Linked DNA regions of Homo sapiens. The protein of the gene in region 2 purifies or fractionates together with the protein of the main gene of each other region. This does not show direct contact. Each region holds a gene or a part of one and is shown on either strand. Other genes may lie near its edges.

Region 1 (3,500 bases), on a different chromosome or scaffold from region 2:
GACAGATCTTCTGGGGCTTAACTCAAATACTGTTGTGTCTGCACCAGTCTTTTAGTGTCTCAAAATAGATTATTAATACATCCATAAGTCTGTGGTTCTTCTCATTCTCATCTATAATCCACCACTACCAAGAGAGATTTCTGTGTCTTAAATGATTTGGTGCATATTTTGCAACATTGAGAGAAAACTGCCCCCATCTCAAGCAAGAATGGCGTTGGTTTCTTCCATTTCAAACTAATCAGCATTCTCCAGCAATGACAAAGTGCCAGAGTGTATATATGAAAGCTAAGGAAAGCACAAAACAATGGTTCAGAGATAAATTGGCTAATTTGTTTAACAGTTGGAGACTGTGCAATGTACGACTTGGAGGAGTTTGTTTGGCATAATGATTTTGTAGGTCTGTCAGCATTTTGATATATTGTGGATTAGCCAGGTGAATGATCCTTGAAACATCTCTTTCAGGTCTGGAGAAAGAGACAGAATGCCCTTAAAGTGTGAAATAACCTTATACCTGAATTACAGTTTTGTGATATAAAATAAAGCTGAGTATAAAATAAAACCAATCAAACACAGAATTTGATTGGATTTGTTATTCATTGGTATACAACAATTTTTATTCTTATGTGTGCTTTAAGGGCTGTGTTTTGCTCTTAGGGTACTCAATTTTATGTTTCCTTTTGGCATTCTTTGTGCAAAAAGAAGCATGTGGTGGCTCTCATTTAAATTTCAAAATTATTAGTTTTATCTTTAACAGATTACTGATTATACAGAAGATATAATTTATTGGAAGAACTGCCAAATACATTTTGTCCTTCTAAAAATATGGAAATTTAAATAGTAGTCTGGAAAGTTACCATATGATAATTTTTAATTGTGTGATCTAGACATGCCTTAGGTAACTGCAGAAATAGCAAATTAAATGATTAATGAGCTTATTAGTCATAGTAAACATACAGATTCCTAATTCTATGACAGTGTACATATATGAAAATAAATGATGAAAAAAGAACTATAATATTTTTAAAAATATGCTTTTATTTATATTTCACATAATGTAAAGTTCTACAAAATAAAGCTAGTAGGCAAGACCCCTCAGTGTATACCTTTAAACCCATAAATTAATTTTATATCAATAAAATAAAATACTTTCTCTAGTTTTGGAGCTTCTGTATTTCCTATAGTTTTCTGACTGTCCATTTTATCCATCTTAGAAGTATTCACATCCCTTCTATGCAGGATTTCTGCATAGTTTTAAATACTTTCATTGCCTAAGGGTTTGGGTGTGTCAGCTTTTTTTGTTTTAAAAATATTTAACACTAAAACCTTAAAATAATGAAGCTACTTATCAGACCACTGAGCCAAGATCCTGGTATTAAAAGAAAGTCTGGGTGCTTAAGATAAAGGGACAGAGTATTGGTATCCCAGTTATTTGGGAGCTTTAAGATTGGAACAAGATATCACTGTCTTGTTTTCACTTAGATCCTACTTACAAAGTGAGGGTTATTAACAGAATAAAGCCTTCCTTTAAAGCTTTATAATAATCATATTTATTAATAATGCTGTTGTGCATACTTATAGTATGCATATATTCAGCATATGTTGCATGTCTTCAGAATTACATAAAATGAAATCCCTTTCATTGCAACTTGCAAGTGAGAAAAGATCCTTAGTGGCTCTGGTGGAAGAAATAGTATTTCTTCTTCTCAGGGTGTCTCCCTGCCTTGGCCCCTCCCTGAGCCCCAGGCTTTAAAAGTGAAAATGTTTGAAACATGAAACATGTCTGTAGGAAGCATCAGCATGGCCATAAGTGCAGTGATTTTCATATATGCCTCTGCCCATTTCAAATATATTTTTGACATGAATAAATCTAACAGTATACAGAATAATTCATGTAAGACCCTAACGTGTACATGTGAAAAAGCATTTCTATATAATGTGAGGAGCACTGGCCATCAATTAGGGAAATAAAGGTCATGTAATATTGCAAATTTTCAAAATAGAGCCCTGCAAGATAACTGCAATCATACCAAAAACTATTTGAGTAAATGGATTTTTAAAGTAATTTTTGTTTAGAAGAGTTTATATTTCAGAAGCAGAAAATGTCAAATGATAGTCTTTGTAAATGGTGGTGCACCTTCTCTATGCACATCTGTCTTTTACATCAGAAAGAGCTGTGGTCATGCTAAAATTAGAGATAACTTTTTGAATGACTTGGTCAAGCTGTGTGTAAAATATTTAACCATAAGTCAAGTACAGTGTACTATGTTTAATAAAGTTACATTTAATGCATTTATTGCATATATGAATATATACATGAAGAGGCTTTATGTCTTCTGGTATTTGATTTTGAATGTTTTTTAAGTCAGTGGTGCCTTTAGGCAAGAACTTTCGAAATTAATCATTCTTTGTGTTTTCTGATTTTTCAGGTAACATGTACACTATTTAGAAACCATCATAGTTTATTCACCTTAAAAAATTGATTGTATTATTTAAATATATCACTTAGATGGGCATTTCCTATAATTAGGATATTCCAAATAGTTGCTGAAATCAATTGTGCCATTGACCAATGGATGCACTTGGTTAGCCTTAATTTTTTTAAAAAAAAAAAAAACAAAAACTTTCTTGAATATTTCAGTTTGTTCATTTTAAGTTTGTGCTGCTGGTATTTGGGAAGAAAAATCAATCAGTTAAGTGCTACCAGAAAGTGTACCAATTTTTATAAAAATTAAGAATGATATAAATTTCACAATCTAAAATTTTAATTTTGTGCAATATTTTCATTTAATGCATGTGTATTTGAGTAATTGTAAGATAAATGAATTTTTAATTTTTTGAGATGTAGCTTAAACTGTCTTCTTAATCCAACAACTTACATTCCGTTGTTGCTGCATCCTTTTATTTAAGGACTTGTTTTAAAAGTCTTTTTGTCACTCCTTGGAAAATTCTTTTATTAGTAGTAAATTTTGCTTTTAGGAGCATGGCTCCTGTATTACAAGGGAAAAAATATGAAGAGCACATTTTAGGATTATAATTGTTAAAAGATAATGTGTGCATATCATTGTACAGTAAGTGTCAACTGTGTGCCTAACTGTTCTATCAATACTTTCTTTCTTTAACAAAGAAGAAACAACAATCAGAATGTCAGTTATTTTTATTCAACTAAAAGGATTAAAAAATTTATTTGGTTTGTGTTCTGTCCATTAGAAAATACTAATAAAGTATTAACAAACATTTTTGTTGAGTTCATTTAATAGTAATGTATTTTTGTTACTTTTAAGATGCTTGCTCAGTAGTCTTATTTTTAGTATCTGTTTGTATTTTCTTTTCTTTTAGATATCAACCAATTCAAGTTCCAGGTTGATAGATGAGTGCTTGAGTGATTACTGACTTAAATGGACTGAATTTAACTTTTTCTTTTATGGGGCAAATAATTTACACCACAGTGTTAAAGAAACTTTATACTTCCTCATCGTATCAAATTATAAAGTATTTTCCCA
Region 2 (3,500 bases):
TTTAAAACAATGAGATACCACCACACACCTGTTAGAATGGCCCAGATCCAGAACACCAACACCACCATTTGCTGGTGAACATGTGGAATTCTCATTCATTGCTGGTGGGCATGCAAAATGGTGTAGCCACTTTGGAAGACAGGTGAGCAGTTTCTTACAAAACTAAGCACACTCTTACCATGAGATCTGGCAATTATGTTTCTTGATATTTACCCAAAGCAGTTGAAAACATGTCCACCCAGAAACCTGCACATGAATGTTTATAGCAACTTCAGAATTGCCAAAACTTGGAAGCAACCAAGGTGTTCTTTATTTAGGTGAATGGATAAATAAACTCATACTTCTAGACAATGGGATATTATTCAGTGCTATAAAGGAATGAGCTGTCACATCATGAAAAGTCATGGAGGAGCCTGAAATTCATCTTACTAAGAGAAAGAAGCCAATCTGAAAAGACTGCATACTGTATATTTTCAACTATCTGCTGTTTTGGAAAAGGCAAAACTAAGAAGACAGTGGATTGGAGGGGAGGGAGGGATGAATAGGCAGAGCAGAGAGGATTTTTTGGGGCAGTGAAACTACTCTATAATGATGGTTACATATCATCATCTATTTGTCCAGACCCACAGAACGTACAACACCAAGAACGAACTCCAATGTAAATTATGGACTCTGGGTAATAATGATGTACCAATGTGTGTTATCAGTTGTAACAAATGTACACTCTTGTTGGGGATGTTGATAGTCGGGGAGACAAGACAGGGAACATATGCGAAATCTCTTCCTTCTGCTCAGTTTCATTGTGAACACAAAACTACTTTAAAAAGTAAAGTTTATTTTAAAAAGAGGAGGTCTTAGGACAGAACCTTAGAGAATTCTTAATATTGAGGAACTAGCCTTAGAATAGTTCTGCTCTTCCTTGTGAAAATAATTAACTTAAATATCTGCTCTGAATATAAAACTGAACATAAGCTGTTTTTGAGTAAATTTTCTGTAGGCAAATGATGAAATAATTTTTTTTTACCTGTTTTCTGATATAATGACCCTTAGCATTCATACTTTCAACAGTCTCAGCTTTGATACTCAGAAACAACATGGAGAGCCAGAGAATATAGTAATTTGTTATTTTGCTGAGGCACAAATTCAAACCACATTCACTTTAAGACTCCCGTTTGGGAGAGTAACTTAGCTCTTGAGCAAGCTTACCATTCCTTTGTGTTATCCTCTGCTCCTCATCTCTTACTTAGTGACACCTGAAGGATGTGAAAGAATTACGTATATTTGTTCATTAGTTTCATGCATATTAATTGGGAAATTCCATGTAGTATTGGTGAGTTTGAGGATTAACAAAGATTTGTATTGGGCCACATATCTTGAAAATACCAAGGATGTACTATGCCTATTGTAAATTAAATTTGGCTTTGTCTCCTAGCATTAGAATTTTTTATGACCAACACTAGGAGTTTAGTTATGATAGGGGAAAAAGGATAAATATTTGAGTACCTTGTTTATATAAGAATAACTTCTTTTTTTTCTGCTTAGGGAAGCATTCAGTGGAGATCTTAATAAGGATTGACTTTTCTTGGTAACAGAATTGATATCAGTGGTACATGACATCTATGCAGCCAGACACAAATCTGAACTCGTTGGACCCTAAATAAGTGTTTAAATATTTGTTATATTTCCCAAAATGATTGGTTTGTAAGATGGTTAATAGTAACTTATGCAAAAGTCCAGAAATTAGGTGTTCTTATTCACTGAGAAAAGTCTGCCTTAAAAATTAAACTTTTTTTTTCTGATATTAAGAGCACTATGAAAATATATAGAATAAAAAGTAGAAGCTATCTTCTGCCCACTGGGTAGAAGTCGGCTTATCCTACATTGGGTGTTAATCCTTACATTTTTCCATGCATTTCTATACATGTATGTACAGATGTACAAACATCATTTTAGGGTTTAATTTGTTTTGTTTTCCCTTAGTGGGGTAATACAATAAGTATTATTTTCCAACTAGCAGATTTTTTTTTTTTTTTTTTTTACTGCAGCATTTCTCAGAGTTTGCATTATGCCTTGTGCATTGTGAATCTCCAAAAATGGGATACATGATACTGCATTTGTCAACTTGACCATAGAAACCTCTTATCCAGGAGCCTCTTATAGAAACACTGGTTTGGGGAGTATTGATTTGCAGTTTTTGCCTAGTATCTGGGAAACAGGGTGGTGATTTTGCTTTATGATCCAGTTAATGGTGAGTCACTTTATAATATAAAATTATTTCACATTTGGCCTTTTTGTTTAGATCTGTTAGTCAAGTGTATTGGTGAAGAAACCAAGTATGAAAGCATCAGACTTCTGTTTGATGGCTTACAGCAACCAGTACTCAACAAGCAGGTAAAGCTCATTAAAGCTCGTAAACTCATGCTGGCTAGGTTTGGTGAACGACGTAGTAAGGTGTCTGGTAACTCATTAGTTGTATAAATGACACTATACTAAACCAAGGCAATATAATTTTAAACATTCAGATAGAAAAAAAGTTTTATTTGAGTTACTCTTTTTGTTTCAGTTTTTTCTAAATAAGATGAATTATTTTGATTTAAAATTAATATATAGTAATTGTAGAAAATTTGGCATAGAAAATTCATGAAATACAGTAAAAAATTAAAAATGGATAATTCCATTATTCAAGTCACATAGAATAACCAGTTAACATTTTTATGTTTATGGTTTATGTAAACTATGTATAAGCTTTATATATTCTGTTGAGATCTCAATACAGTTGTGATTTTGTGTTCTTGTTTTTCTAAAAATTCAAATATTTAACATAAAAATGAATTAATGAGGCATAATGAAAGTGTCCTCATGCAAACACATGTGTACTTATTACCTATTTTGAGAATAGAACATTATTGATACTACTGAGGCTACTTTTGTGCTTGTTTTATATTATCAGTCCCATTCCCTGCCTTCCCACTTAGAGGTAACCACAATCTTTAATTTTGTGTGTATCATTTTTATGGTTTTTGTGTTTAGTGCCTTAACATTTATTATTATTATTTTTTGGTGCTTTAGCTGACTTATGTTTTATTGGACATTGTGATACAGGAACTGTTTCCAGAGCTCAATAAGGTAACTGAAAAGCAGTAATTTTATTCATGATTTTCTTAATGGTATGCTGACATTTATTTTAATTAGGGACATAAATGTAAGAAAACCCTTGTCTCTGTTCTCTGTGGTTCTTTAAAAAATTAACCTCAGCAAATTGCCTTTTGTATTTTCTTTATTAAACATGCCCAAACAATTCTGGGGGACAGCTATTGAATAGCTTCTGCTTTGACTTCATCCCTTTTTAATTACAAGCAGATAGGGACCCTATATAGTCTTTCCAGGGGAAGAAGTGAGTGTAAGTCCTAGCACTAGAATAGGCCAAGCTCAGTGTTATCGTCTGCACCATTGTATGCTGTGTAAGTCAGAAACTAGAGTATTTTTGAAGCAAGTTTTAT

Evidence for each region.
Region 1: the proteins of SNX14 (region 2) and SNX13 purify together in Homo sapiens (affinity purification with mass spectrometry; one large-scale study listed by BioGRID and IntAct). This does not show direct contact.

The regions. Positions count from the first base shown.
Region 1 is NC_000007.14:17,790,495-17,793,994, reverse strand, and holds the end of SNX13 (sorting nexin-13), read left to right. Parts: 3' UTR 1-3,234; downstream 3,235-3,500. UniProt on the Homo sapiens protein: May be involved in several stages of intracellular trafficking. May play a role in endosome homeostasis. Acts as a GAP for Galphas.
Region 2 is NC_000006.12:85,506,859-85,510,358, reverse strand, and holds part of SNX14 (sorting nexin-14), read left to right. Parts: intron 1-1,542; coding exon of another isoform or gene 1,543-1,589; exon of another isoform or gene 1,590-2,039; intron 2,040-2,045; coding exon of another isoform or gene 2,046-2,083; exon of another isoform or gene 2,084-2,299; coding exon 2,300-2,391; intron 2,392-3,069; coding exon 3,070-3,126; intron 3,127-3,500. UniProt on the Homo sapiens protein: Plays a role in maintaining normal neuronal excitability and synaptic transmission. May be involved in several stages of intracellular trafficking. Required for autophagosome clearance, possibly by mediating the fusion of lysosomes with autophagosomes.